Linked DNA regions of Homo sapiens. The protein of the gene in region 1 purifies or fractionates together with the protein of each later gene. This does not show direct contact. Each region holds a gene or a part of one and is shown on either strand. Other genes may lie near its edges.

What was found.
Region 2: the proteins of CA9 (region 1) and XPOT purify together in Homo sapiens (affinity purification with mass spectrometry, with the first as the bait; one study listed by BioGRID). This does not show direct contact.
Region 3: the proteins of CA9 (region 1) and IPO9 purify together in Homo sapiens (affinity purification with mass spectrometry, with the first as the bait; one study listed by BioGRID). This does not show direct contact.
Region 4: the proteins of CA9 (region 1) and CAND2 purify together in Homo sapiens (affinity purification with mass spectrometry, with the first as the bait; one study listed by BioGRID). This does not show direct contact.
Region 5: the proteins of CA9 (region 1) and IPO5 purify together in Homo sapiens (affinity purification with mass spectrometry, with the first as the bait; one study listed by BioGRID). This does not show direct contact.

The regions. Positions count from the first base shown.
Region 1 is NC_000009.12:35,675,163-35,680,974, forward strand, and holds part of CA9 (carbonic anhydrase 9 precursor), read left to right. Parts: intron 1-375; coding exon 376-405; intron 406-598; coding exon 599-769; intron 770-901; coding exon 902-1,044; intron 1,045-1,134; coding exon 1,135-1,227; intron 1,228-2,514; coding exon of another isoform or gene 2,515-2,529; exon of another isoform or gene 2,530-2,627; coding exon 2,628-2,694; intron 2,695-4,022; coding exon 4,023-4,180; intron 4,181-4,691; coding exon 4,692-4,836; intron 4,837-4,950; coding exon 4,951-4,977; intron 4,978-5,590; coding exon 5,591-5,672; intron 5,673-5,802; coding exon 5,803-5,812. UniProt on the Homo sapiens protein: Catalyzes the interconversion between carbon dioxide and water and the dissociated ions of carbonic acid (i.e. bicarbonate and hydrogen ions).
Region 2 is NC_000012.12:64,440,195-64,447,140, reverse strand, and holds part of XPOT (exportin-T), read right to left. Parts: intron 2,067-6,946; coding exon 2,010-2,066; intron 1-2,009. UniProt on the Homo sapiens protein: Mediates the nuclear export of aminoacylated tRNAs. In the nucleus binds to tRNA and to the GTPase Ran in its active GTP-bound form. Docking of this trimeric complex to the nuclear pore complex (NPC) is mediated through binding to nucleoporins.
Region 3 is NC_000001.11:201,851,452-201,858,397, forward strand, and holds part of IPO9 (importin-9), read left to right. Parts: intron 1-652; coding exon 653-741; intron 742-1,559; coding exon 1,560-1,646; intron 1,647-3,143; coding exon 3,144-3,263; intron 3,264-3,371; coding exon 3,372-3,472; intron 3,473-3,672; coding exon 3,673-3,731; intron 3,732-4,331; coding exon 4,332-4,483; intron 4,484-5,644; coding exon 5,645-5,743; intron 5,744-6,946. UniProt on the Homo sapiens protein: Nuclear transport receptor that mediates nuclear import of proteins, such as histones, proteasome and actin. Serves as receptor for nuclear localization signals (NLS) in cargo substrates.
Region 4 is NC_000003.12:12,825,985-12,831,907, forward strand, and holds part of CAND2 (cullin-associated NEDD8-dissociated protein 2), read left to right. Parts: intron 1-1,455; coding exon 1,456-1,620; intron 1,621-2,042; coding exon of another isoform or gene 2,043-2,105; exon of another isoform or gene 2,106-3,615; intron 3,616-5,480; coding exon 5,481-5,588; intron 5,589-5,923.
Region 5 is NC_000013.11:98,020,620-98,026,626, reverse strand, and holds the end of IPO5 (importin-5), read right to left. Parts: intron 5,636-6,007; coding exon 5,494-5,635; intron 4,892-5,493; coding exon 4,805-4,891; 3' UTR 2,331-4,804; downstream 1-2,330. UniProt on the Homo sapiens protein: Functions in nuclear protein import as nuclear transport receptor. Serves as receptor for nuclear localization signals (NLS) in cargo substrates.

The DNA.
Region 1 (5,812 bases):
TTTGTATTTTTAGTAGAGACGGGGTTTCGCCATGTTGGTCAGGCTGGTCTCGAACTCCTGATCTCAGGTGATCCAACCACCCTGGCCTCCCAAAGTGCTGGGATTATAGGCGTGAGCCACAGCGCCTGGCCTGAAGCAGCCACTCACTTTTACAGACCCTAAGACAATGATTGCAAGCTGGTAGGATTGCTGTTTGGCCCACCCAGCTGCGGTGTTGAGTTTGGGTGCGGTCTCCTGTGCTTTGCACCTGGCCCGCTTAAGGCATTTGTTACCCGTAATGCTCCTGTAAGGCATCTGCGTTTGTGACATCGTTTTGGTCGCCAGGAAGGGATTGGGGCTCTAAGCTTGAGCGGTTCATCCTTTTCATTTATACAGGGGATGACCAGAGTCATTGGCGCTATGGAGGTGAGACACCCACCCGCTGCACAGACCCAATCTGGGAACCCAGCTCTGTGGATCTCCCCTACAGCCGTCCCTGAACACTGGTCCCGGGCGTCCCACCCGCCGCCCACCGTCCCACCCCCTCACCTTTTCTACCCGGGTTCCCTAAGTTCCTGACCTAGGCGTCAGACTTCCTCACTATACTCTCCCACCCCAGGCGACCCGCCCTGGCCCCGGGTGTCCCCAGCCTGCGCGGGCCGCTTCCAGTCCCCGGTGGATATCCGCCCCCAGCTCGCCGCCTTCTGCCCGGCCCTGCGCCCCCTGGAACTCCTGGGCTTCCAGCTCCCGCCGCTCCCAGAACTGCGCCTGCGCAACAATGGCCACAGTGGTGAGGGGGTCTCCCCGCCGAGACTTGGGGATGGGGCGGGGCGCAGGGAAGGGAACCGTCGCGGCAGTGCCTGCCCGGGGGTTGGGCTGGCCCTACCGGGCGGGGCCGGCTCACTTGCCTCTCCCTACGCAGTGCAACTGACCCTGCCTCCTGGGCTAGAGATGGCTCTGGGTCCCGGGCGGGAGTACCGGGCTCTGCAGCTGCATCTGCACTGGGGGGCTGCAGGTCGTCCGGGCTCGGAGCACACTGTGGAAGGCCACCGTTTCCCTGCCGAGGTGAGCGCGGAGCTGGCCGAGAAGGGGCAAAGGAGCGGGGCGGAGCGGGGCCAGAGACGTGGCCCTCTCCTACCCTCGTGTCCTTTTCAGATCCACGTGGTTCACCTCAGCACCGCCTTTGCCAGAGTTGACGAGGCCTTGGGGCGCCCGGGAGGCCTGGCCGTGTTGGCCGCCTTTCTGGAGGTACCAGATCCTGGACACCCCCTACTCCCCGCTTTCCCATCCCATGCTCCTCCCGGACTCTATCGTGGAGCCAGAGACCCCATCCCAGCAAGCTCACTCAGGCCCCTGGCTGACAAACTCATTCACGCACTGTTTGTTCATTTAACACCCACTGTGAACCAGGCACCAGCCCCCAACAAGGATTCTGAAGCTGTAGGTCCTTGCCTCTAAGGAGCCCACAGCCAGTGGGGGAGGCTGACATGACAGACACATAGGAAGGACATAGTAAAGATGGTGGTCACAGAGGAGGTGACACTTAAAGCCTTCACTGGTAGAAAAGAAAAGGAGGTGTTCATTGCAGAGGAAACAGAATGTGCAAAGACTCAGAATATGGCCTATTTAGGGAATGGCTACATACACCATGATTAGAGGAGGCCAGTAAAGGGAAGGGATGGTGAGATGCCTGCTAGGTTCACTCACTCACTTTTATTTATTTATTTATTTTTTTGACAGTCTCTCTGTCGCCCAGGCTGGAGTGCAGTGGTGTGATCTTGGGTCACTGCAACTTCCGCCTCCCGGGTTCAAGGGATTCTCCTGCCTCAGCTTCCTGAGTAGCTGGGGTTACAGGTGTGTGCCACCATGCCCAGCTAATTTTTTTTTGTATTTTTAGTAGACAGGGTTTCACCATGTTGGTCAGGCTGGTCTCAAACTCCTGGCCTCAAGTGATCCGCCTGACTCAGCCTACCAAAGTGCTGATTACAAGTGTGAGCCACCGTGCCCAGCCACACTCACTGATTCTTTAATGCCAGCCACACAGCACAAAGTTCAGAGAAATGCCTCCATCATAGCATGTCAATATGTTCATACTCTTAGGTTCATAATGTTCTTAACATTAGGTTCATAAGCAAAATAAGAAAAAAGAATAATAAATAAAAGAAGTGGCATGTCAGGACCTCACCTGAAAAGCCAAACACAGAATCATGAAGGTGAATGCAGAGGTGACACCAACACAAAGGTGTATATATGGTTTCCTGTGGGGAGTATGTACGGAGGCAGCAGTGAGTGAGACTGCAAACGTCAGAAGGGCACGGGTCACTGAGAGCCTAGTATCCTAAGTAAAGTGGGCTCTCTCCCTCTCTCTCCAGCTTGTCATTGAAAACCAGTCCACCAAGCTTGTTGGTTCGCACAGCAAGAGTACATAGAGTTTGAAATAATACATAGGATTTTAAGAGGGAGACACTGTCTCTAAAAAAAAAAACAACAGCAACAACAAAAAGCAACAACCATTACAATTTTATGTTCCCTCAGCATTCTCAGAGCTGAGGAATGGGAGAGGTCTATGGGAACCCCCCTTCATGTTCCGGCCTTCAGCCATGGCCCTGGATACATGCACTCATCTGTCTTACAATGTCATCCCCCAGGAGGGCCCGGAAGAAAACAGTGCCTATGAGCAGTTGCTGTCTCGCTTGGAAGAAATCGCTGAGGAAGGTCAGTTTGTTGGTCTGGCCACTAATCTCTGTGGCCTAGTTCATAAAGAATCACCCTTTGGAGCTTCAGGTCTGAGGCTGGAGATGGGCTCCCTCCAGTGCAGGAGGGATTGAAGCATGAGCCAGCGCTCATCTTGATAATAACCATGAAGCTGACAGACACAGTTACCCGCAAACGGCTGCCTACAGATTGAAAACCAAGCAAAAACCGCCGGGCACGGTGGCTCACGCCTGTAATCCCAGCACTTTGGGAGGCCAAGGCAGGTGGATCACGAGGTCAAGAGATCAAGACCATCCTGGCCAACATGGTGAAACCCCATCTCTACTAAAAATACGAAAAAATAGCCAGGCGTGGTGGCGGGTGCCTGTAATCCCAGCTACTCGGGAGGCTGAGGCAGGAGAATGGCATGAACCCGGGAGGCAGAAGTTGCAGTGAGCCGAGATCGTGCCACTGCACTCCAGCCTGGGCAACAGAGCGAGACTCTTGTCTCAAAAAAAAAAAAAAAAAAGAAAACCAAGCAAAAACCAAAATGAGACAAAAAAAACAAGACCAAAAAATGGTGTTTGGAATTGTCAAGGTCAAGTCTGGAGAGCTAAACTTTTTCTGAGAACTGTTTATCTTTAATAAGCATCAAATATTTTAACTTTGTAAATACTTTTGTTGGAAATCGTTCTCTTCTTAGTCACTCTTGGGTCATTTTAAATCTCACTTACTCTACTAGACCTTTTAGGTTTCTGCTAGACTAGGTAGAACTCTGCCTTTGCATTTCTTGTGTCTGTTTTGTATAGTTATCAATATTCATATTTATTTACAAGTTATTCAGATCATTTTTTCTTTTCTTTTCTTTTTTTTTTTTTTTACATCTTTAGTAGAGACAGGGTTTCACCATATTGGCCAGGCTGCTCTCAAACTCCTGACCTTGTGATCCACCAGCCTCGGCCTCCCAAAGTGCTGGGATTCATTTTTTCTTTTTAATTTGCTCTGGGCTTAAACTTGTGGCCCAGCACTTTATGATGGTACACAGAGTTAAGAGTGTAGACTCAGACGGTCTTTCTTCTTTCCTTCTCTTCCTTCCTCCCTTCCCTCCCACCTTCCCTTCTCTCCTTCCTTTCTTTCTTCCTCTCTTGCTTCCTCAGGCCTCTTCCAGTTGCTCCAAAGCCCTGTACTTTTTTTTGAGTTACGTCTTATGGGAAGGGCCTGCACTTAGCGAAGAAGTGGTCTCAGAGTTGAGTTACCTTGGCTTCTGGGAGGTGAAACTGTATCCCTATACCCTGAAGCTTTAAGGGGGTGCAATGTAGATGAGACCCCAACATAGATCCTCTTCACAGGCTCAGAGACTCAGGTCCCAGGACTGGACATATCTGCACTCCTGCCCTCTGACTTCAGCCGCTACTTCCAATATGAGGGGTCTCTGACTACACCGCCCTGTGCCCAGGGTGTCATCTGGACTGTGTTTAACCAGACAGTGATGCTGAGTGCTAAGCAGGTGGGCCTGGGGTGTGTGTGGACACAGTGGGTGCGGGGGAAAGAGGATGTAAGATGAGATGAGAAACAGGAGAAGAAAGAAATCAAGGCTGGGCTCTGTGGCTTACGCCTATAATCCCACCACGTTGGGAGGCTGAGGTGGGAGAATGGTTTGAGCCCAGGAGTTCAAGACAAGGCGGGGCAACATAGTGTGACCCCATCTCTACCAAAAAAACCCCAACAAAACCAAAAATAGCCGGGCATGGTGGTATGCGCCTAGTCCCAGCTACTCAAGGAGGCTGAGGTGGGAAGATCGCTTGATTCCAGGAGTTTGAGACTGCAGTGAGCTATGATCCCACCACTGCCTACCATCTTTAGGATACATTTATTTATTTATAAAAGAAATCAAGAGGCTGGATGGGGAATACAGGAGCTGGAGGGTGGAGCCCTGAGGTGCTGGTTGTGAGCTGGCCTGGGACCCTTGTTTCCTGTCATGCCATGAACCCACCCACACTGTCCACTGACCTCCCTAGCTCCACACCCTCTCTGACACCCTGTGGGGACCTGGTGACTCTCGGCTACAGCTGAACTTCCGAGCGACGCAGCCTTTGAATGGGCGAGTGATTGAGGCCTCCTTCCCTGCTGGAGTGGACAGCAGTCCTCGGGCTGCTGAGCCAGGTACAGCTTTGTCTGGTTTCCCCCCAGCCAGTAGTCCCTTATCCTCCCATGTGTGTGCCAGTGTCTGTCATTGGTGGTCACAGCCCGCCTCTCACATCTCCTTTTTCTCTCCAGTCCAGCTGAATTCCTGCCTGGCTGCTGGTGAGTCTGCCCCTCCTCTTGGTCCTGATGCCAGGAGACTCCTCAGCACCATTCAGCCCCAGGGCTGCTCAGGACCGCCTCTGCTCCCTCTCCTTTTCTGCAGAACAGACCCCAACCCCAATATTAGAGAGGCAGATCATGGTGGGGATTCCCCCATTGTCCCCAGAGGCTAATTGATTAGAATGAAGCTTGAGAAATCTCCCAGCATCCCTCTCGCAAAACAATCCCCCCCCTTTTTTTAAAGATAGGGTCTCACTCTGTTGCCCAGGCTGGGGTGTTGTGGCACGATCATAGCTCACTGCAGCCTCGAACTCCTAGGCTCAGGCAATCCTTTCACCTTAGCTTCTCAAAGCACTGGGACTGTAGGCATGAGCCACTGTGCCTGGCCCCAAACGGCCCTTTTACTTGGCTTTTAGGAAGCAAAAACGGTGCTTATCTTACCCCTTCTCGTGTATCCACCCTCATCCCTTGGCTGGCCTCTTCTGGAGACTGAGGCACTAGGGGCTGCCTGAGAACTCGGGGCAGGGGTGGTGGAGTGCACTGAGGCAGGTGTTGAGGAACTCTGCAGACCCCTCTTCCTTCCCAAAGCAGCCCTCTCTGCTCTCCATCGCAGGTGACATCCTAGCCCTGGTTTTTGGCCTCCTTTTTGCTGTCACCAGCGTCGCGTTCCTTGTGCAGATGAGAAGGCAGCACAGGTATTACACTGACCCTTTCTTCAGGCACAAGCTTCCCCCACCCTTGTGGAGTCACTTCATGCAAAGCGCATGCAAATGAGCTGCTCCTGGGCCAGTTTTCTGATTAGCCTTTCCTGTTGTGTACACACAGAAGGGGAACC
Region 2 (6,946 bases), on another chromosome or scaffold:
TTGTTTTCCTGATAGTAAATGGGTCTCACAAGATCTGATGGTTTTAAAAATGGGAGTCTCCCTGCACAAGCTCTCTCTTTGCCTGCTGCCATCCACGTAAGATGTGACCTGCTCCTCCTTGCCTTCCGACATGATTGTGAAGCCTCCCCTGCCATGTGGAACTGTAAATCCAATAAAGCTATTTTGTAAATTGCCCAGTCTCGGGTATGTCTTTATCAGCAGCGTGAAAATGGACTAATACAGACAAGAACAGTATTGATAGTGCCCTAGTACCTAGGAGATTCATTTAATAGATAATCTACTATGTGCAGGGGAAAGAATGATCACTATATAGGCAAAAGAAAACCTTACAAGGAGGCTGTGCTTAAGGCAAACCTAGAGAAATGGGTACAGTTCATACAGAAGTTGGGCTGCTAGTAAGGCAGGATTTTTGAAGAACTACAAGAACAGTAAAGACCATTTCTGCAAGAAAAAACAGAAAGGTAGTCTCAGGGCAGAATATGAAAAAAAAAAAAAATTAAGTGCCAAACTGAGAAACATGAATTTGTTCAGGAAGGTTATGAGGAAGGTGAATAAATATCAAAGGACTGCTTGAAGTTTTCAAACACATCAGCCTGGCTAGAACAAGAGAAGAGAGATCAGAGTAAGATAACATCAGCCTACACCAGAGCAGCAGAGACAGAAGAGAGAGAAGATGAGGAAAGAATCTGCAAGATCTGAGGATCAATCAGATGTGAAGGGAGGAGTGAACACGAATGAAATTCATTTTTTCCAACTAGAATAATAATGCTAACACTGAGAATTATGATCACTAAGATAATGTCATCACTGAAGAGAAGTTGGGCCCAGAAGGAAGACTTTTTATAAATGCTATGCAGATAAATAACCACATCTGGAGAACAAGCCTTCTATAGGGTACCTAGATCTACTGTTACAGACACCTCTAACAGATAGTGAGGACTGAGTCCTTAAATTCAGTTTGACTGATCAGTTATTTAACAGGGGTTACTCCTGTAGGCACTTTGCTTTTTTATGGGAGGATGGCGAAGGGGAGGGTTCCCAATGATAAACAAAAACAAGCCCTCAATATTCTTCCACAAAAACTCTGAGATGTTTAAGCTGACAAACTACAACTAAGAAAAAACTGACAAGGGAAGATGTTAGAACCACAGTCAAAGGATGGCACACTTAAATTATTTACTGCGCAAAGCCCTCTGACTTACAAATTCTACTGAATGTCTTTGCTAAAAGAACCAGGTGATACACTAAGTTACCTGCTACTGAATTTAATACAGTGCTTTGTCTTCAAATTATTTGAGTGAAGATAATAAAAAATAATTCACCTTGTCACACTGTAACTTTATTTCTAGATCATGAGCTCCTTATGGGGAGGGAAAATTACTCATAGTTGTATTTGCAGCCATTACTGTAGTACTTGGTACATAAAAAGCAGTCATTATGTATGAAATGAATGACTACCTAGGTAAGACCAAGACAGTTTCATCTCATGAACTCAATTATAACTATGAATACCAAATAAACACGTGACACTTTTTGTTGATTTACAGAGTTAAAAAAAAAAATCAGTAATTTCGTAAATGTAAAAGGAGGCTTGATGGCCCAAATCTGAGGATTCTCCTTTTTGTCTGTTTTACAGTTCAAATGTTTCAAAATAGGATATAAGCAAATATCTCATCCTTCTGTTTTTATATTTTTAGCCCCTTCTTTTCAACTTAATTTGGACAACTGTTCTTGAACATTTCTTATTCTCCTAATCCCTCTAGTTTCTATTTAATTACATCATGAAACTGTAAAAGAAAACTGGCATTTTCTCACCAATATACTCAAAGGTGTACACATTCAGTGTGCTTACCTAACTTATACTCTTTTTCAAGAGCTTAGTTAAAAGGGACTTCACATAAACATCTATAATTGCAGGTATGTATTCTCTCTTGGCTCTCAAACATTACCTAATTGTATGAAGATACGTGAGCTTCACAAATACCTACCTTTAAGTAATTTTTAAAAACTTTAGCATCAGGCTGCTGAAGCGCTTGACAAAACTCCTGGGGGGTGGGGAAAAGAGGGAGAAAAAGAACAAATGTATTTGTATTAAATCCATTGTAATTCGTATCCAGTTTTTTTTTTTTAATTTTTTTTTTTTTTTTAAGAGATGGTCTTGCTCTGTCATCTAGGCTGGAGTACAGTGGTGTGATCATAGCTCACTGTAGCCTCCAACTCCTAGGCTCAAGGGACACTCCCACCTCAGCCTCCCAAGAAGCTGGAATTACAGGCATAAGTCACTGTGCCCAGCTCTTTTTTTAAAAAAGCTGTAGTTAAAAACACTTAAAACTTATCACCTTAACCACTTTTACATGTACAGTACAGTAAGCATTAACTACATGCACACTGTTGTACAACAGGTTTCTAGAACTTTTGCATCTTGCAAAACAAGCTTGCTTTTTGCCTCTTAACTGAAGAACTCCCCATTTTCCCCTACTCCAGCCCCTGGCAACCACCACTTTCTGCTTTGGTGAGTCTACTTTAGATATCTCAAACAAATGGAATCATAGAGCATTGTCTTTTAATAACTGCCTTATTTCATTTAGCATAATGTCCTCTAGGTTCATCCACATTATAGCATATGACAGGATTATTTTATAAATCAGGCTTAATATTCTATTGTATGTATATACCATATTTTGTTTATCCATTTATCTGTCAAAGGAATTTAAGGTTGCTTCAAATTCATGGTATTTAACTTATCAAGATTAATTCAAACAGTATCTCACCACAAGAGGTTTATAGCATTTTCAAATGTCAGTACTTGTCAAACAGGCTGCTTTCACTTTTGAGAACATAGCTCTCCTAGACAAGGTGGATTCATGCCTGAGAGGAGTGAATGGGACAAAAACTACATTGCTACGGCTGCTCACATCTAGTAAGAGGGATAACCAAACAGAGCTAGACCAAAAGAAAAGAAAATTCTAATAGAGAATATTGTGCAAAATGTGTTGTCAGACATAAGGCATATGAAAAAGGGAAAACTGAGGTTCCTTATCTTTCATAATGAATTACTAAATAGAAAAATAATTTTATTTCATTTAGCAATCTGGAAGATTAGCTGTAAACTGAATGGTCTAAGTTCTACTTTTGATGAGCACTAAGATCACAAGAATAGTAATTTATTATTTTCATTAAAATATGAGTTTATTTACATATCAAATGATAACCAAGAAAGTCATTAATATCTCTAAAGGTGGTATACTGTGAAATAAGAGATCACAAATTCATTAAAAATGAGTTAAATTCATTTTTTAAACTCATGTGAAATCTTTATTTTTGAAAAAAACAGCATTATAAAAACTTCAAAAAAACACCATTGAGGCTGGGCACAGTGGCTCATGCCTGTAATCCCAGCACTTTGGGAGGTCAAAGTGGCCGGATCACTTGAGGTCTGGAGTTCAAGACCAGCCTAGCCAACATGGTGGAACCCCATCTCTGCCAAAAATACAAAAACTAGCCAGGTGTGGTGGCATGCGCCTGTAGTCCCAGCTACTTGGGAGGTTGAGGTGGAAGAATTGCTTAAACCCGGGAGGCAGAGGTTGCGGTGAGCCAAGATCGCACCACTGCACACTAGCCTGGGCGACAGTGGATGACCCTGTCTCAAAATAAAAATAAAAAACAAAAAAACACCATTGAAAGCTGTGTTCATGGACTGAAGACTTAATATTGTTAAAATGTCTTTGCTACCCAAAGCAATCTGCCGAGAAGTGATGTCTGCTGTTCTCTTACCTCTCTTTGGTGTTTGACTGCCACCACCTATGAAGGGGCCCTTACCCTTCTGCAATACCCAGACCAGGGTGATGTAGTAGTGTTCAGGGACTTGGTGAAGGTCATAAGAGTGAATTATAACACACATGGGGAGCTGGGTGACAGTGGCAGGAAATTTGTATTTTTCAACATACCTCAAATCCAAAAACAAAAAAAACCCTTGGATCGGGCACGGTGGCTCACGCCTGTAATCCCAGCACTTTGGGAAGCCGAGGTGGGTGGATCACGAGGTCAGGAGTTCAAGACTAGCCTGGCCAAGATGGTGAAACCCTGTCTCTACTAAAAATACAAAAATTAGCTAGGTGCAGTGGCGGGTGCCTGTAATCCCAGCTACTCGGGAGGCTGAGGCAGGAGAATCGCTTGAACCCGGGAGGCAGAGGTTGCAATGAGCCGAGATCGCGCCACTGCACTCTAGCCTGGGTGACAGAGCAAGACTAGAGCAAGACTCCATCTCAAACAAACAAAAAACCCTTGGATGCAGATCATGATGTTTAAGAACACAATACCATTACCCTTCCTACAATTCTATTTATATTATGAAGAGCAGGTCCTGGTGGATATAGAAATCAAGATGAATAAGGAGATTATGGAACACATCAAAAAAATCGTGGGGAAGAATGAGGACACAAGAAAGGAGAGCAGGAGAAAAAGCAGCTCTCTCACCCAGCTCATTTTGGCCTTCAAAGTAGTTCTGATGGGAATCTACCTGTGAAGTTAAAGGGCAGGTGCCCTATCCAGGCCTAATGGCATTAGGAGACGACAGGGAAGTACAAAGCAACACTGAAAGCCAGTGCCTAGCAGTAAGGTCCAAGGACACTATGGGCTAGGGTAATTGATATGGGGTTACCTTGGTCACAGAAAAGCCCCTGGTTCTGGACAGGTGTGGTGGCTCACGCCTGTAATCCCAGCACTTTGGGAGGCCGAGGCCAGTGGATAACTTGAGGTCAGGAGTTCAAGACCAGCCTGGCCAATGTGGTGACCCCGTCTCTACTAAAAATACAAAAATTAGGCATGGTGGTGGGCACCTGTAATCCTAACTACTTGGGAGGCTGAGGCCGGAGAACTGCTTGAACCCGGAGAATTGCTTGAACCCGGGAGGTGGAGGTTACAGTGAGCAGAGATTGTGCCATTGCACTCCAGCCTGGGTGACAGAGCAAGACTGTCTCAAAAAGAAAGAAAAAGATGACGACTCTGGAAATGTCTTTGCAATAAAAGGGTCCCCCCCCCACTTTACACATTATGTAAAATGACACAGGGGAAAGAGTATATAAAACTGAGCTGCTAAATGAATATCCCTGTTCCATCAGGTCAACAAAATGCTTCTTAATGGCCAGGCAAGGTGGCTCACGCCCGTAATCCTGGGACTTTAGGAGGCCAAGGTGGGAAGATCACTGAGGTTAGGAGTTTGAGACCAGCCTGGTCTCTACTAAAAAAAAAAGCAAAAACAAAAATTAGCTAGGCATGGTGGTGCCTGCCTGTAATCCCAGCTACTCAGGAAGCTGAGCCACCAGAATCACTTGAACCTGGGAGGCGGAGGTTGCATGCAATGAGCCAAGATCGTGCCTCTGCACTCCAGCCTGGGCACTAAAGCGAGACTCCATCTCAAAAAAAATAAAAATAAATTTAAAAAATTTTAAAAAGCTTCTTAATCATTCCAAAAATAAAAAACAAAGTGACGTACAGATTCAAGGCAATCCGTATAAGAGTTCCAAGAGCATATTTTATAGAAATAGAAAAAACAAAACTAGAATTTACATGGAATCACAAAAGGCCCTGAATAGCCAAAACAATCCAGAGAAAGAGCAAAGCTGGATGTACCACACTTCCAGATTTCAAAATATATTTTAATATTACAGTGTGAAAACAGTATGGTACTAGCAAAAGACAGACATATATCCTAGCTACTTGGGAGGCAGAGGCAGAAGGATTCTTTGAGTCCAGGCGTTTGTAGTTGCTGTGAACTATGATGGTGCCACTGCACTTGAGTCTGGACAACAGAGTGAGACCCTCTCTCTTTTAAGACAGACATATAAACCAATGGAACAAAATAGAATTTGAAAATCAACTCCTGTATACAGTCAACTGATCTTCAACAAGGGTACTAAGAATACACAATGGGGAACAATAATCTCTCCAATAATGGTGCTGGTAAAACTGGATATCTACGTGCAAAAGAAAACGAGACCCTTATCTTACACAAAAATCAACTCAATGTATTAAAGACTTTATATGTAAGTCTCCAAACTGCAAAACTAGAAGAAAACATAGGAGAAAAGCTTCAAGATGCTGGTCTTTGAAATGATTTCATTGATATCACGAAAAGCTACATTAGTGGGGCTACATTGAATTAAGAAGCTTCTGCACCATAAAGTAAGCAATCAACAGAGCAGAAAGGCAACCTCTGGAATAGCTAAAGAATGGGAGAAAATATTTGCAAACCATTTATCTGATAAGGGGTTAATTTCTAACATATAAAAAAACTCCTCTAATTCAATAGCAAAAAACTTAATAACTTGATTAGAAAATGGGGTAAAGACTTGAATAGACTTCTCCAAATACAAATGGTTAACAGGTGTATGAAAAAACAAACATCACTAATCATAAGGGAAATGCAAATCAAAACCACAATGAGATATCACCTCACACCTGTTAGAATGGCTATTACAAAAAAATGAAAGACAGCAAGTGTTGGTGACATTGTGGAAAAACTGGAACCCTGCTACACAACTGATGGAAATGCAAAATGGTGTATAGCCACTATAGAAAATAGTAAGATGTTTCTTCAAAAAATTAAAAATAGGACTACCATATAATCCAGCAATCCCACTTCTGGGTATTTATCTAAAAGAATTGGAATCAGCATCTCAAAGACATATTAGCATTCCCATGTTAACTGTAGCACTTACAATGTGAAAATAGCCCCAATGAATCTATCAGTGGATTAATGCATAAAGAAAATGTGATATATACATACAGTGGCATGTTATTCAGCCTTAAAAAATTGCGAAATCCTGCCATATGTAACAACATGGATGAACCTAAAGGACATTGTGTGAAACAGCCAGTCACAAAAAGAGAGATAACTGCATGATTCCACTTATATTAGGTATCT
Region 3 (6,946 bases), on another chromosome or scaffold:
GGTGTATTTGGTTTTTTTTTTTTTGAGACGTGAAGGGAAAGATACGACCCATATTTCCGTCACCTTCGAGTCTCATTCTGTGTATAGGTTGCTTTTTGTCACATTTATATAGAAAATTCCCATTTGTTCCAGTTAGCAGCAGCCTCTGACTTTTAGGTCAATAAAATCTGAGAAGAGTAACATATACAAAGAGGAGTTGAGGCCTAGTAAGTCTGTACATATTTTATTACATGCATCAAACCAGCTTGCCAAGCGAAAGTACTGAAAACAGAAGCAAAGGTAAGAAACCTCGAAGTGTAACTGAATGTTGACAGATGGGCACAAGATAAATTAATACAGAATTTTCCCAAGTTGACCTCACAAGGACTTTTATGCAGTTCTATTACAGATTTTCTTTCAGTATTTATATTAAAGTTTTCTTTTTTAATCTCTTGTATTTTTCTTTATTTCCATATTATTCTTTCTCCTTCTAACAAATAATCAGTAACTCTTGCTACTTTTGCTTTCACAGAATGAGACCACCAGGCCAGTGTCTTTACCTGTGTGCTGTCTGTTTGGGAACTGCCACCTAGAAGCAGTTCAGAAAATATCACACTTAATATCTTTATGAAGCAGTATTTTTTTTTTAACAGTACTACTTTTTTCTTTGTAGAATTCACTCGTGAAGTAACAGACACACAGATGCCACTTGTTGCTCCTGTCATTCTCCCAGAGATGTATAAGATCTTCACCATGGCTGAGGTATGAAATCTCAGCTCCAAGATTATAGTGAGTTCAGGCTCTCTTCAGCCCCCAGCCTTTCAGGTGGGAGATTATGGTGTTTGCAACTGATCTCAATACCTAAAAACTAGAACTGACAAAGATCTGGATCTGAATCTGCATTAACCTTAGACCTTTCACTCAACTACAAGGGCAAGCCTTTGATAAAAGTGTGAAATAGCTGAAATATTTCTTCACATATCGTACTTCCTGGCATCCAGTAGCCCCTAAGTAGATAAATAGTGCCTTCCTTCATGCTACTTCCAGCCTCTTACTGAGTTATCCCACCTACGCTTGCCTACCTCAGCTAAGTAATGGGAAGCAATCTATCACTGCATTGCACATAATAGACCCTTAATATATTGCATATATATTTGATTAGTGTGTATATGAATGATAACTCATTTATAGTAAGGTATAAATACCTGATGGATAATGTTTTAACTTCCCTATTCCCCTCTGCCCCCAACCAATGGTCTGCATTTTAAAGGAAATATATTGGCTGTGTTGGGATTTTAAGCACTACCTAGTCTGGTATTTTTTAATCAAATGAACCCACAGAGGCCCTTATATAAGGTTCATTCCAGTAAGTTCCAACATTATGATTCTGCTACCTTTCATTCTCTGAATTACAGAAGTCTGCCTCCTGGACATAAATGAATTACATTTCCCATTTCTCGAGGGCATCCAATCTCATGTGAGGATTCATTAGTCATAGTTTTACTTCTAGTCTGAGATACACACATACCTACACACTCCAGTCTCGTGGCTATGCTGTTATGCTGTAACCTTTCTTCCAGGTGTATGGTATTCGAACCCGTTCCCGAGCCGTGGAGATTTTTACCACTTGTGCCCATATGATCTGTAACATGGAGGAGCTGGAAAAGGTAAGCAGGTCTTTGGATCAATAACAGACTTCATGCTTAAAAGTTTTATTCATGCAGAGCAGTGAGTCATTTCATGATAGCAGCACGAAAAAGCACACTAACCAGTATTAGAGATAGATTTAACATTTTTATTAAATTATTGTTGTTATTTTTCCAGACAGGGTCTTGCTCTGTCACCCAGGCTGGACTACAGTGGTGCAATCATGGCTCACTACAGCCTTGAACTCCTGGGCTTAAGTGATCCCCTGACCCCCAGTAGGAACTACAGGTGTGGTGTGCACCACCACACTTGGCTGATTTTCTTTTTTAAATGTTTGTAGAGATAGGGTCTCACTGTATTGCCCAGGCTGGTCTTGAACTTCTGGGCTCAAGCAGTCTTCCCCCCTCAGCCTCCCAAAGTGCTGGGGTTATAAGCATGAACCACAACACTCAGCTATATTTGTATTTTTTTTATTTATTTGGGTTTTTTTTGAGACAAGATCTTGCTCTGTCACCCAGGCTGGAATGCAGTGGCATGATCATAGCTCACTGCAGCCTCAACCTCCCAGGTTCAAGCAATCCTCTCACCTCAGCCTCCCGAGTAGGTGAGATCACCAGCATGTGCTACCACTCCTGGCTAATGAATGAATGAGTGAACGAATGAATTTATTTATTTATTTAGAGATGGAGTCTCGCTCTGTCACCAGGCTAGAGTGCAGTGGTGCAATCTCAGCTCACTGCAACGTCCGCCTCCCAGGTTCAAGTGATTCTTCTGCCTCAGCCTCCCGAGTAGCTGGGACTACAGGCACGCGCCATCATGCCCAGCTAATTTTTGTTTTGCAGTAGAGACAGGGTTTCACCATGTTGGCCAGGATGGTCTCAATATCTTGACCTCGTGATCCACCCACCTCGGCCTCCCAAAGTGCTGGGATTACAGGCATGAGCCACCATGCCCAGCCTAATGAATTTATATTTGTAGAGACGGGGTCTCTCCCTATGTTGCCCAGGCTCATCTTGAACTCCTTGGCTCAAGTGATCCTCCCACCTTGGCCTCCCAAAGTGCTAGGATTATAGGTGTGAGCCACCACACCTGGCCTGATTGAATTTTCAACTTGTAAAAAGCTTAGTCTTCTTTTGAGTCTTACTTCTTCAAACACCTTATCCTATATCCTTTTCATAGTAGTCATCCCTTAGAACTTTCCTACTCTTTTATGGCCCTCTTGTGTGAAGCAAAGCTAGCTGAAAAATACCAATCCCTGTGATTCAGAAGCAGTTAGGAGGAAAGTTGGTCTTACATAATAGTTTTTAAGAGGGCTTTGATGAAGAACTGCAAGTGCTGGTTAAGGAAAAATGAAATCTTAGGTAACACCTTCATTGACTTTATAGCTATTCTCTTCTGATCAGGCTTGGAGCCTGAAGAGAGCTTTAGGTGCCTTTCAAATATCAGTGTTTGATATATATGTGTTGAAGCCATGGATTAGGGGTTTGTCCAGTATTGACTTTGGTTTCTGTTATCAGGGTGCAGCCAAAGTCCTGATCTTTCCCGTGGTACAGCAGTTCACAGAGGCCTTTGTTCAGGCCCTCCAGATACCAGATGGCCCCACATCTGACAGTGGGTTTAAGATGGAGGTCCTAAAGGTAAACACTTACTACCAATGAAATATTTGGAGTTTGAGGGGCTGGTCTGAAATCATTTATTTCTTATATATCACTCATAACTTGGGTCCTTTTCTCTTAACTTCTTAGGCAGTGACAGCCCTAGTGAAAAACTTCCCAAAGCACATGGTGTCCTCCATGCAGCAGATTCTGCCTATTGTTTGGAACACCCTAACCGAGAGTGCAGCTTTATATCCTTTCTTGAAAGTTTAAGGGAGCTACTACCACCTATAGTTAGGAATCTCGCACTGGGTTTCACATTCATATGGTTCCACTCTTCTTACACAGGCTTTTTTAAGGTGTCTACTTTTAGTGTTGGAATATGTAACATTTCCATGTAGATTATATGTAAAGCAGACTCCAAATTCTATTTCTTTACTCTTCATCATACTTATGTGAGGACAGAAGTAAATTACACAGAAGAAGTAGAAGATCCTGTGGATTCTGATGGTATGTAGTTTATTTGATCTTTATAGAAATACCAGTTAGTGGGAAAAGAAAAAGAAGCCAGAGATGGGGGCGGGAAACAGTAACTTGAGAGGCTTCACTCTATTAAGTGTTTTCTAATTCAGTTTATTTTCGATGTATTCGATGTGGGGAAATGAGAATTGACAATCTTTAATCTGTTCCACATAGGTAGTTGCATAAATCTCATAAAATCATAGAATTTCTGCATTGGAAGAGATACTTTTAAGGCCATTTAATCTAGCCTACTTCTGGCATTTTGTTGTGTTTCATTTGGGGGTCCCAGATCATGAATCTTTCGTTTCTGTTTTAACATTTCTCATTATTTCAGATTAGAACAATAGACATACTGGAAAATATATCCAGTGTTTCTGATTCTTTTACTTGAAAAACCAAAGAATATTTAATATCCTCAAAATTACGTTTTGTGACCTCTGAGCCCTCTCTCCCAATTCCTCAGGAATGATCATTAGCAAGTACTTTAAATATTCAGTAATTTACAAAGGTTATGTAGTTCATTTTCTGCATATATGCTTTCCTTTTGCTTTCTTGTCATTAATTTCTTCTCTTCTGTATTTCCTGCAGGTGAAGTCCTGGGCTTTGAAAATCTCGTCTTTAGCATTTTTGAATTTGTCCATGCTCTACTAGAAAATAGCAAATTCAAAAGCACTGTTAAGAAAGCCTTGCCTGAATTGATTTATTATATTATCCTGTACATGCAAATCACTGAGGAGCAGGTAAATAATATTTGAGAGACAGTTACCATCTTGTATTTGGAAAGTGCAACTTGAAGAATATGAGGTCTTGGTCAGGTGAACACTTTATTTCTAAAAATAGACACAAAAAGAATAATTTCATGTGAAGTTCTGGGAAAGGTTTGACATCATTTTATTGCCAAATCCAAGGTTTTGGAGTTCACCACCATACCTGGCTTTTTTTTTTTTTTTTTTTCCCAGCAAAGTACTATACTATGTTGCCCAGGCTAGTAGTCTCTAACTCCTGGGCTCAAGCAATCCACCCACCTTGGCCTCTCAAAGTGCTGGGATTACAGGCATGAGTGACTGTGCCTGGCCCACTTTTGCCATTAGAAAATCTCACAGGACCACTAACCTAAGACACTGATTTTTAGGAGAATCTGTTCCTTCCCTAAAGTAAAATGTAATAATCAGACCATTAGCCTGATGGTGGGTCATCAAAAGCAGCAAAGAACGTTCAAAAATTAGATAACGCCTCGTTTAAAACAGCACAAGAATTGACATAATTTTCACAATAAATAGTCTATCAGACTTAATCTATTCAGAAAATCGATCTATCAAAGGGTAACAGCAGGTTGACATTGGCAGAGAGCTAGTAATCAGCCAGATTCTAAAAGAGAGCAATAGCCATTGCTACCTACCTTGCTACTTAATAGTATTTATTTCTCTACATCAAAAAGAAAAGATTTTTTTAAGCTAGAGTTTTTGTTTCAGTTTTTGTTGTTGTTGTTGTTTTGTTTTGTTTGCTTTTTGGGACAGGGTCTTGCTGTTTTGCTCAGGCTGGAGTGCAGTGGTGTAGACAAAGCTCACGGCAGCCTTGACCTCCCAGGCTCAAGCCATCCTCCTGCCTCAGCCTCCCGAGTAGCTGAGACCACAGGCATATGCCACCATGCCCAGTTGACTTTTTTATTTTTTGTAGAGGTGGGGTCTCACTATGTTGCCCAGGCTGGTCTCAAACTCCTGGGCTCAAGCAGTCCTCCCACCTTGGCCTCCCAAAGTGTCAGGATTACAGTTGTGAGCCATTGCATCCAGCAAAAGGCTAGAGTTTTTTCAGGATAATAGGTTGAAATCTTCCTGTATCTGTTGATGAAAAGCTATGAATCAGATTGGCAGCATCACAAAGACATAACTTGATCTTTTCAGATTAAAGTATGGACAGCCAACCCCCAACAATTTGTAGAAGATGAAGATGATGATACATTCTCCTATACTGTTAGAATAGCAGCTCAAGACTTGTTGCTGGTAAGTTTACCTTGATACTTCAGCCACATAATTTCTATCAGTCACTTGAGCATTTCTTCTTTTTTGTAGACAACTAATCCAAGGTGAGCAGTGTTGTTGGGTGGCTTTATCTCAGACTTTATTGGGGATGCAAGAGAGTTTCTGAAATGAAATTCGAGACTCAGAAATTCTAAAATCATTGCTACTGGTTCTAACTTAAAACTAAATATTAGATAAAAGAATTGTGCAGACCATAGGGCCGGGGTGCGGGGGAGAATTGTATAGAGGATAAAGTGTTCCATGGAGTAAGGGTAGTTGAATCAAGAACATTTCAGTTTATGGCTGGGCGTGGTGACTCACACCTGTAATCCCAGCACTTGGGGAGGCCGAGGCGGGCAGATCACCTGAGGTCCAGAGTTCAAGACTAGCCTGACCAACATGGAGAAACCCCATCTCTACTAAACATACAAAATTAGCCGGGCGTGATGGCGCATGCCTGTAATCCCAGCTACTCGGGAGGCTGACGCAGGAGAATTGCTTGAACCCGGGAGGCGGAGGTTGTGGTGAGCCAAGATTACACCATTGCGCTCCAGCCTGGGCGACAAGAGTGAAACTTGGTCTCAAAAAAAAAAAAAAAAGCCATTTCAGTTTAATTCACTCTTCAACAAGAATCTATAGCACAGACAAAAGGTTGGCAAACCTAGCAAAACAAAACAGATTGCTGAAAGATTAACATCCAAATACCTGCTCATGTTTTCTTTGCCTCTTCTGACTAGAGCATAGAGTTGTCTCTAGGCTGAAATACTAAGAAGAAACTGCCACTTGCTTCTTGTTGGGTAGGAGATTTGTTCTCTGTTGATGAATCACTTCTCATTATCATTTAGTATTTCTAAGGAGCTGTGAAAGATTATATTCAGTTCCAATTAGTAGATTAGACTTATTTTTCTATCATCAGTCTCCAAGAGAGCAAATATTTGGTCCATTGTCATCCAAAGCTAGATCTATTATTGCTCACTTATGCTCTGCTGAATATAGCCAAAGGAGCCAACTGGTTAGCCTTACAATGCCTAGGCACTACCGAAATACAGATACTACTTTAATTTCATTAGAGACCCTGACCTACTGGTATAACATTTTTAATACAATTAGGGGTTTGCACATGTATGTGAAAGAGCTTGAACCAATCACTTCTAACAGTCATGACTGAAGCGGTTTACAATTAAA
Region 4 (5,923 bases), on another chromosome or scaffold:
GCGCCCAAGTGCCAGGACTCAGAGTTGGGCCTGACTGGGTTTCTGCCACCAAGGAGTTCATCGTGGCCCCCTAAAGGACAGAGATGCCAACTCTGCTGATTACAGACAGCCCCCGCCTTACAATGGTTCAACTTTACAATGGTGCAAAAGCAGTAGCGTTCAGCAGGCTCCTCACCTTATGATGGGATTGCTTCTGGAAGCCAACTTACAATGGACCTATTGTGATGTAATCCCATCATACACCAAGGAGCAGCTGCGTTTCACTTAGAGCCCACCTGGTAAAGGAAGGATTCGGGGGCAGAGGTTAAAGGTGATTTAGTAAGTTTGAGCTGTGGAATACTAGCAGCATTGAGGCCCTTTAAGCTGGGCTTTGAAGGGTGAAAAGGTGTTTACCATTAAAACAGGGCTTCATGGTTGAAAGCTTCAGAAAGACCTGGGTGTCTTTTTTGTTGTTTTTTTTTGAGACAGGATCTTGCTGTGTCACCTAGGCTGGAGTGCAGTGGCACAATCACAGCTCACTGCAGCCTCGACCTCCTGGGCTCAAGCGATCCTCCCACCTCAGCCTCCTGAGTAGCTGGGACTACAGGCGTGTACCACCACACCTAGCTAATATTTTGTATTTTTTTGTAGAGATGCGGTTTTGCCATGTTGCCCAGACGTCTCAAATTCCTCCTGCCTCGGCCTCTCAAAGTGCTGGGAGGACAGCCATCATGCCCAACCTACCTGGGTTTTAAATTCCAGTTCAGCCACTTACAAGCAGTGTATCCTTAACCTGTCCAGCTCAGTTAATTAACCTGCCCAACTCAGTTTCCTCATCTGTCATTAAATGGGATCAGTAACATTTACTTTTTTTTTTTTTTTTTTGAGATGGAGTCTCGCTCTGTCACCCAGGCTGGAGTGCAGTGGCGCGATCTCAGCTCACTGCAACCTCCACCTCCCTGGTTCAAGCAATTCTCCTGCCTCAGCCACCCAAGTAGCTGGGACTACAGGCACGTGCCACCATGCCCGGCTAATTTTTTTGTATTTTTAGTAGAGGTGAAGTTTCGCCATGTTAGCCAGGATGGCCTCAATCTCCTGACTTCATGATCCGCCCGCCTTGGCCTCCCAAAGTGCTGGGATTATAGGCGTGAACCACTGTGCCTGGCCAGTAACATTTACTTCTGATGGCATTTGTGATGCTTGAATGAAACGTCATCAGTCAAGCAGTCAGCACAGTGCCTGCCACTCAGACAGTGCCTGCTCAGTAGATTATAAGAATAATTGTTCTTATTGCCACTGTTATCACTTGGGGGAAATGACACTGCAGGCTGAGCAAAGGCATGGAGACTTGAGAGTATAAGGCACGATTTGGGGCTGGCATGGATTGTGGAATAGAGATGTGGGGTTTGTAGCAGAAGCTAGAAGAGGTGTCCTTACACCCTGGGGCCATATCACCAACCTTCATCCCTCCTGCAGGTGGAGATGGGGCCCTTTAAACATACAGTGGACGATGGGCTGGACGTGCGGAAGGCGGCCTTTGAATGCATGTATTCACTGCTTGAGAGCTGCCTGGGCCAGCTGGATATCTGTGAGTTCCTGAACCATGTGGAGGACGGGCTGAAGGACCACTACGACATCCGGGTAAGACCAAGCCCCCTGCCAGATCTATGTGCCCCTGTACCAAGGGATAGTCGGGCACCATTGGGGCCATGCTTGTTTGTCCTTGCTCCCTACTCCAGGCACCCAATGAAAATAGCTGCATTGTTGTTTTCTGATAAGAAAAGGAACCTGTGTCTCAAACACCTTTGGTGGGAGTCTACACTGGGCAGGCTCTTTGGAGGATGGTTTCACAGCAACCAGAAAAAAAAAATTGTCCAGGTGTGGTGGCTTATGCCTGTAATCCCAGCACTTTGGGAGGCTGAGGCAGGAGGATGGCTTGAGCCCAGGAGGTTGAGGCTGCAGTGAAACATGATCACACCACTGCACTCCAACCTGGACGACAAAGCGAGACCCTGTCTCAAAAAAAAAAAAAAAATTCCCAGACGAAATTTTTGACCCTGCAGGGCACTTTCAGCTGTGGAATACTAGCAGCATTGAGGAGCGAGCTGCATCTCTTCGTGTTGTGACCTGAAAGAGCTCCAAGCCCCAATGTTGAGTGGCAAGAGCTAGTTCCAGAAGTTAGGACCATTTTCTTAACAGACAGAGTGAGTCTGGGGCTGGTGGAGACGTCGGTTTCTTCAATTTATATCTTTCTATATCATTTTTTTAAATGTTAAAGTTTATTCACATATATGATAGAAATCATTTAATTGTGGCGAAATATTAATAATACAAGTTACTATCTTCAGTAACTTACTATCTGCAGGTGAAGTGTTTTTTTTTTTTTTTTTTTGAGACAGGGTCTTGCACTGTCACTCAGGCTGGAGTGCAGTGGCTTGATCTCAGCTGACTGCAACCTCTGCCTCCCAGGTTCAAGCGATTCTCCTGCCTCAGCCTCCCAAGTAGCTGGGACTACAGGTGCCCACCACCACACTCAGCTAAATTTTTTTTGTATTTTTAGTAGAGACGGGGTTTCACCATATTGGCCAGGCTGGTCTCGAACTCCTGACCTCAAGTAATCTGCCTGCCCTGGCCTCCCAAAGTGCTGGGATTACAGGTGTGAGCCACTGCGCCAGGCTCCATCTTCACTATTTTAAAGTGCACAGCACAGTGGCAGTAAGCACATTCACATTGCGGTGCAGCCGTCACCACTGTCCATCTCAGAACTCTTTTCTCCTTCCCAAACTGAAAACTGCACCCATTCAACACTCTATGAATTTGACTACTCTAGGTTTCTGCCCTTGTAAGTGGAATCATACAGTATTTGTCCTTTTGTGACCAACTTGTTTCACTTAGTCTGATGTCCTCAAGGTTCATCCATGTTGCAGCATGTCAGAATTTCCCAGTGTTGTATGTACAGACCACCAGTTTGTTTACCCATTCATCCATCGCTGGACAAATATTTGGGTGTTCCCAGCTTCTGGCTATTATGAGTAATGCGACTGTGAACCTAGGTGTTCCGATATCCTTTGGAATCCTGCCTTCAGTTCTCTTCACTTTACCCAGAAGTGAAATTGCTGGATCATACGGCAATTCTGTGTTTAATGTCTTAAGGAACTGCTATACTACAACTTTATTTTTAAGTTTTTATTTATTTGTTTGAGATGGAGTCTCACTTTATGGCCCAGGCTGGAGTGCATTGGTGCAATCTTGGCTCACTGCAACCTCCGCCTCCCGGGTTCAAGTGATTCTCCTGCCTCGGCCTCTTGAGTAGCTGGGATTACAGATGTGCACCACCACGCTCGGCTAATTTTTATATGTTTTAGTAGAGACAGGGTTTCGCCATGTTGGCTAGGCTGGTCTTGAACTCCTGACCTCAGGTGACCCACCCACCTCGGCCTCCCAAAGTGTTGGGATTACAGGCATGAGCCACCACGCCCGGCCCCATATTACAACTTTAAAAAATATGTACTGTAAGCGTGAGTCACTTTTTATAAGGAAAAATTAATACAAAGTAATCAAAAGTAACCCATACTTGTTTTAAAAGATTTACACAAGATGAAAGCAAATAAAGAAGCAAGTAATAATCACCCAAAAGCTTCTCCACACCCAGAGAGGCCTGCTGTCTCAGTGTGTTTCTTGGGATGATGCACATAGACCCTCATTCATTAGTCAGCCAGTATTAAGTGAGTGCCAACACGCCAAGGTCAATGTGAGAGGTGGGGTCCCTGTTCTCAAAGCTGTGGAGATGAGTTTATGAGACCTGTTTTCTAGAAATGGGATCACACACATGCTGTTTTTTTCCCCAGCCTTTTAACTTACATTTACTGTATGTTGTTTGCTTTGCTTTTCAATATATATCAGTCCTGTCAACAGCTGCAGGAGTTCCCATTTCTGTTGCACTCACTGCTACACATGTATGTTATTTGCACATTTTCACAATTACAGACAATGCTGCTGTGAACACCCTGGTGCATTACTGTGACCCACGGTGTGATCGGTGGGCTTCTAGGGTGGAGTGCATGTTCCTGCTAAAGCATCCGATGCGCGTGGTGAGGCTGCACCTCCTGCAGCGGGCGTGCCTCTGACCACTCCAGACTTGGAGTTCCTGGGACGCTCCTTCCTGCACTTCCTGTCTGCCTGTCTCCCCCTCGGCTTTATTATTGCTTTAAACTCTTGCTTCCTGCCAACCCCCAAGAAAGAGAAAAGAAGAAACAACATAAGTTCTCTGGGATTCCAGCCCCAAGATCTTGGTTGAGAAAGGGGGTTGGGTTTTCCAGTGTATGCCATGCAAACTAGTGGAAAATGATGGGGCGCACAAAGCTGAACAGGACTTTCCACCACAGGGTTCCGGGAGGCTCCAGACGGGAGGGGTGTACTCAGCTTCCATCATCTGGGTGTGCCTGGTATTAGGCATCTTGTGGGGCTACTGACCCCAGGACACAGAGTGAGGAGTTCTGGGCCAGCCCAAAGCTCCACCTTGTGGGGATTTTTCTCCAGGATCGAGCAAGTCTGTTTCTTCCATCCAGTCTGGCCATATCCTCTCATGCCTGCCCTCCAGGAGCGCAGGACAGGGCCTAGGCACCAGTGCAGCCTTGGAGTCCACTCTGCTGCCACCCCCTGGGGTGAGGAGGGTGGGTGTTACAGCTATAGAGCCCACAGCTTTGCGTCATCAAGTCTTCAAGTGAGCCTTTAGAGAGGGAGTGAACACCGCCCAGTTCACAGGGGAGACGGAATCTTGTCTAGTTCTAGGGCACAGGGTCATGGAGTAGCCAAGAGTCATAGCTCCTGAAGTCCAGCACCGCTGCTCCTTGCTGCCGTGGGCTGGGCCTCCTCCTTTGCTGTGGGGCTTAGGGGTCAGGGTGTGGAGATGGGTAGGGCGTGGGGATTTCAGACAACCAGTCTTTATGGTGTGCAAGGCTTCTTTGTGAGGACTTGACTATTTTCAAAAGACAGGACAATTATTCCCCTACAGGCTGAATCTAGGCCTGCAGCCATGTTTAGTTGTTGTTAAAAGTTTTTGTTTGGTTTTGAAATCAGGTGTCAACATTTAAAAATCGAGACTTTTTTTTTACATGAAAATTGGGATTTCTTTTGAAAACAATCCAGTGGCCCCAAGCTACATGTTTGCACTCCCACCTGGCCACACTCAGCCAGAGCTGCCCCAGCAGCCCCCTTCACTCATCCCCAGCATCTGCCTGACTGGTGGGCATCTGAGCTTGAGAACGACTCCCTCCCTGGTGCTTTTCTGATCCTCCTTGGGTCATCCAAGTGTAGTTGGCAAAGAAAGTGTCACCATTTGAGGAAACAGACCCAGAGAGGGAGAGACTCTGGCAGGACTTCACGGTGGTCTGAACTTGGGCTTCAGGTTTCAGTTGTGGGGCCTCTGCTCTTTCCCAGGGCTGGCTGCTGCTCTTGCTCCTGCACCATTTCACTAAGAACCATCTCCTTCCTCTGGGCAGATGCTGACCTTCATCATGGTTGCCCGGCTGGCCACCCTGTGTCCTGCACCTGTCCTGCAGAGGGTGGACCGACTCATTGAGCCACTAAGGGCCACCTGCACTGCCAAGGTAAGTCCCTGGCCCAGCCCTAGCCCAGGCCCTGGAGCACCTATGGAGTCCTCGGCCAGTCGTTCAGTTACCCTTACTGAGCACTTCCTGCAGTGCAGGTGATGTTGTGAAAGTGCTTCATTTAATCATTGTCATTGCCCTATAAAGTACCTCTTATTATCATTGTATACACAGGGGAACAGAGGCTTTGAGAAGTTGTTATTGGCCAAGGCTACACAGCTAGTAAATTGCAGAGCTGGATTCAGACCCACCTCTGTCTCTCCTTCCATTCATTAAACACTTCCTGGGTGCTGAGCCTCGTGGGAGATACTAAAGATGTAACATTGAGCCTGATA
Region 5 (6,007 bases), on another chromosome or scaffold:
AAAAGTCCCTGGTGACCTACAGTTCAGTGTACCGAACAAACCAGCTCTTGCAGCAAACTGAATGTCTTCTCCAAACAGGGACAGACTGCTGCTTTTTAGGGTGGAGCTCCAGATGAGGCAATGGGTGCATTTAGGGCCATGTCTTATGCAGATCAGGCATCTTCAAACACCAGAATCACAGTGTCAAGAAAGTAAAATAGTCCACATACACCACGTTTATGGCACAACTTCACTGACTTTGCAAAGTTTCCCAATATTTTCCACAACTTTCTAGGCTTCCTCCTAATGCCAAGGCTGATTAGAGAACTTGAAAAAAAAAAAAAGTTTGCAGCTGGGCACCGTGGCTCACACCTGTAATCCCATCACTTTGGGAGGCCGAGGCAGGCAGATCACGAGGTCAAGAGACCATCCTCACCAACATGGTGAAACCCTGTCTCTACTAAAAATACAAACATTAGCTGGGCATGGTGGCTCACACCTGTAGTCCCAGCTACTCGGGAAGCTGTGGCACGAGAATCACTTGAACCTGGGAGGCATCTCACTTGAACCTGGGAGGCAGAGGTTGCAGTGATCCGAGATCGCGCCACTGCACTCCAGCCTGGTGACAGAGGGAGACTCCATCTCAAAAAAAAAAAAAAAAAAAAAGTTTGCTTAAATTATCTGTAAGTATTAATAGAATTTAGGTGTAATTCTGATAGCTAATGCTTAATGTGCCTGGCTTCTAAATCCATCTGAACCCTCTATAAGGTATGTACTATTATTGTTCCCATTTTACAGAGAAGGAAACTAAGGCATACAGAGGTTAGGTAAGCTGAGTACATGGTAGACTGGGATTTTTTAACTGACACAGTGATTTGATTCAGAGGTCAGCAGCTATGGCTAGCCTCTTTTGTCAAGTTTCACTGGGATACAGCCAAACCCGTTTGTTTACTATGGTCCATGACTGCTTTCGCACTGCAACGGCTAAGCAGTTTGTGAGACCCTATAACTTGCAAACACATACTTGTTCGGTGACGAGTGCTAAAATATTTACTATCTCGAACTTAGAGAACACATTTGCCAACCTCTGGTCTTAACCATACAGCACCATGGTCTTTTATGGTGCACCTTAGGATCACAGGAGCAAGTTGTCGGGCTGATCCAAACTCTTACATTTTCTACCCATCTGTTACAAAACTTTTAGGGGAAATAGGGGAACTAATTTCTGATTCATATCAAGTGGCACTATTCTGGTTTCCATTACAATCTGAATGCTAGTCAAGAGGACAGAAATGATAGATCAATCAAAAGGAAATACACAATGAAAGCTCCTGAATCATGAAAGAACAGATTTCATAATTATACTCTGCTGCCTTAGTGGAATTTAGAAAAAATTTTTTGTAATGTTTTACAAAAAATTATATTGTACCACTTTTGGATTCATTGAGAAGTGAATAATATAGCTATAATTTATCTTTAAAATGTTTGTATTCATCCAAATATAATAAATACATAGAAATAATCAGCCCAAATGTTGTCTGGCATACACTGTAAGGGTTACAGCTGTGTGGGGAAAAAAGGGTTTAAGTCTAGGGCAGGATGTTGTTAGAATTAACCCCTGCTCCTCAGCACCACCATTCAGAAGTTCCAAGTGCTGGAAATAAATATTCATGCTTCCTCCCAAGTGTGATGTGCATACATTGTGGATCATTCACTTTCTTCTTCTAATAGTGGTACTCATACTTTTAGGGCCGAGAAAGAAAATCTGCTTAGGAATAGCAAACATGGCAGGTTTTGGCTGTTAATCTTTTGTGGCAAAGAAGGTTAAGAGAAGCAAAGTGATTTCGTTTTTTTTTTTTTATTTTTATTTGAGATGGAGTCTCACCCAGTTGCCCAGGCTGGAGTGCAATGGCACAATCTCGGCTCACTGCAACCTCTGCCTCCCAGGTTCAAGTGATTCTCCTGCCTCGGCCTCTGGAGTAGCTATGATTACAGGTGCCTGCCACCACACCTGGCTACTTTTTGTATTTTTAGTAGAGATGTGGTTTCACCATGTTGGCCAGGCTGGTCTCCAACTCCTGACCTCAGGTGATCCGCCTGCCTTGGCCTCCCAAAGTGCTGGGATTACAGGCGTGAGCCACCGCGCCCGACCTGCAAAGTGATTTCTGTGCAGCAGAGAAAACTGACCCAACAATCCTCCTAGGCAGAATGAAGCAGTTATTAAAACATTTAGCTAGCTCCTTAGCCTTTCACGTTGCTTAAACAGGCACTCACTCAAAAGATTAGATCATAAAAATATAATGCTTGCAAGACTGTAAGTAAGCACCCCCCTTATTTATTATCAGACCAGGTGCACCAAGACCATTTATTTGCTTATGTCTTTACTGATGGTTCTGTCAAACTACAACTCCAGAGTTATAAGGTTGCCTCTCATTACAGAAGTGTCAATTAGATTTAAGACAATTTTACTTTTCTTTAAAGATACAGCATTTAAAAAATACTCCAAATTGAGTTATGCCAAAGTTTCTAACACTTGTGCGTGTAACTTGTTACAAAATTCCCAGAAAACGTAAGAGCCACACACATTTTTCCCCTCCAGAAATAGCTTGCATTTATAAACAATATATATCACTTGCTGACATGCAAGACCCCTAAATTTGGTACAAAAGCCAAGAAAAAACTCCATGGATTTTCATCTTGCATAGACAGAATGAGGTATTAAAAATGCTTCTGCAGGTCCTTTCAAAGAATTGTTAGTTCATGGTACATCTCACAGTTAGTTCTGAGCTCTGGGTTTCAGAATCATGTCACACTAACAGCATTTACTACCAACCTTCCCTATTAACTTGATTCAACTCCAATTACCTCTTTGCTTTTCTGCTTTTATCAAGGAGGATGCTGCCAGTCTGCATCTAACAGAGCGCTTCTTTCAGAGCTCTTAGAACCCTGCTGTAAGTACATCTCAGATACTAACGGCATCTGACAATACCACTAGTGTTTAAACTGGAAGGTAGGAGGTTCTTGCTCCCAAAGTGCTTAGCATAGTGCCCAGCAAACACTAGGTTCTCCCAAAAAACATCTTCTGACCACACTGTCATCTGAAATTCTGCAGGTGTGCCATGATTTTAACATGTTTCTTTTCTGCAAGTGTAGTAATAAAGTGTAGTAATAATTTAAATTAAAAAAAGCCTACATTGCTCTAGCTGATTGGCATCAGTACATGAATCGGCTTTGCAGATGCTACATAAGAAAGCAGAAAGGGGTTGTCTTGACACACTTTTTACTCCAATTCCCATTTTTTTCTCCCAAGGAATACAGGCTATAAAGCTCCAAATATTACCACACATTACAAGAGCCCACAGGTATTCATCCACTGAACACAAGGACTGCGCAGGTGGAGTCATTTAATATGCTGCTTTGCTAGATTCGGAAGCCTCCGGGCAATGGTGTTGTGCTGCAAACGTAAAATATATTTGAAGGGCATCTGCTAACAAGGAAACCATCTGTATGTAATCCATTCTATTTTCTATTCCATTTCAGATTTAGTTTTAATAAAGTAATACAAATCATTTAAAGAAAAAACCTTTAATTTAAAATTCTGATCTATGCATAAAATTCATTTTTATATCACGGTTAAATTTAGTACAAACTATAAAAATGTTAACACTGAAGTTTTCAACAGAAGTCTATTAAGATGCCTTAGAAAAATTAAACAACAGCAAGTCATTTACTGCTATGAGGTTAATACATAAAGAAACATTCACACATTTTACTGAAATTTTCAGTAAATAACTTTAGCCATAACACTTATAATTAAAAGTTCAAAAGTTGTGTGTGGCTCTACAGCAATTATAATTTGCAATGAAAACACTAAGCCAAATCTTTTTGAGCTGATCAGAACAATCTTAGCTACAAAATTGGCTGAAATTTGCAAACCTTAAAAAGAACACCAATTGTGAATGGAATAGGTATCATAACTTAGCTTAAAGTGGAAGATGGTAAAAACTCGATGCTTAAGTCTGAATTGCACAAGGAAAATATTAGGGGAAAAAACACTCAGCTATTACTGATAGCTATTACTTTAAAAAAATATTAGATCATTCTTATATTAAAAACATGAAATGAATCCAAGCCAGACAGTACTGAGTTTTTACACAAGCCTCTTTTGTATTCAATGTTGTTTATTGAGGAGTGAATGAGAGACTACTGCCAGACATGCCAATGACACTTCACATTCAAGGGCTGGAAGCTGGAAAGCTTCCCGACTGAGTCACTGTATAAGCCTTCTGGGAAAAAGAACCAAAGTGACATCAAATATGCCATCTTCATGCTTGTTGTCTGTCATCAGTTTTTTTCAACTTTTGGGTCTACTGGTTTGCTGGGTAGGAGGCTTCTTTCTACCCTACAGAAAGACTCACACTCCCAATTCACAATGAACACTGAATGCAGAGCAATTTGTGTGAACACACATCTACGCTGAGTAACTGTTCTTAAAGCTGTTTTTCCTTAAATTTCCTTATGTCTAACGAGAAAAATTAATTTGATTTCCCTTTCCCCTTCAGGTGGGCGGGTTATACCAATAGAAAAATAGTCTTCAGTGCTAGCTACCGCAGGGCTTCCAGGAACTCCTTCAGTGGTCTGGTAGAAATCCATGGAAACTCCATTCTGCAACACAGCGCTGCTCTTCCTGCTTGTGGCTCTCCAGAAGAATGGCCTACACACAACACTACCGATCTCTTTTGCTCAAAAACAAAACAAAGAAACCTAAAGGAAAGGGTAAGCGTTTATTTGGAGTTAGTTTTCTGGTGGGTGACATTAAGGCCCTTCACGCAGAGTTCAGGAGCTCCTGAATGGCGGCCTGCTGCTCAGGACTGAGCTGTGCTATGCACTCAGTCCACAGTCCTCCAGAAGTCTAGGGAAAGAAACATTTTCACAGACTTAGGACGAAATGCTCATTTGGAAGGATTTTAATCATCATCATAGGTAAACTGTAATCATGGCAAAATACCTTCTCCCTAGGTACATTATTTTGATGAGTATCATTGTAAAAGCAAGAAATCTGTTCATTTTTTTAAAGTTCATTTCATTTCCAGTAAGTTTTCTTCATTTTTGCACTGAAAAAGCTACACTAAGCAGGTAACATCTTAAAGTAACCCATATACCACATGAATATAGGAAGTAAAAATCATATAAAGTTTTTTGGCAGATGACAAGTTATTATTAAATCTTGTTTTTTTTTCTTAAGATAGGCAGAAAAACTACACATAAGCTTGTGTTAAGCACCAACTGGTAAGCTCAAAATGTCCTAAGATGAAGGTTTTAATTCTAATAAATAATAAGTACATACGGATGGATTACATTAAGTATAATCCATTTGAGGCTTGGAGACAAGAGACTATGAAAATATAAAAATAAAATTCCTTAGCTCATTAGATTTCTAGTTTCTTCTCATAGAGGACTACAAAGAAAAAAAGGTTTTATCTCCCCCTCCCCAATTCAACCAAATCAGCTTACCTGTACTTGGCGAACGACATTGGCCAGACGTTTGGCACAAGGATCTTCATGTTTAATTGCCTCGTGCATTTCTCCTTCCGCAATTATACTAAATATTTTGGGCAGATTGGTATTGTTTGGGCCAAGAACAATTGGATGATTACTGACAAATGAGAAGAAAACCTTAGTAAGTGAAATTTATAAGGAGAAATATGATTATGTGTTCACTAAAATCAATGGCCTTTTAAATTCAGTAGGAAGAAAACCAGCCAATCTTATATATGAACTCTTTAGTTTCTTTCTACATAAATTAGAAAAAAAAAATACTGGGCTCATCTCTCAGGATTGTTTTAAGGGCCAAACAACAGAATGCTCTAAATACCTTATAAATAATTTGTGATGTGTTAAAAAAAATGTTTTGTATTATTAAAAATAAGTTTAACACAAGTTTTATTTTGCTACTACAAAATAGCTTCTAAAATAACTCTGAAGTTCAAAAAAATTATATAAACATTTCAAGAATAAACTGGGAAAT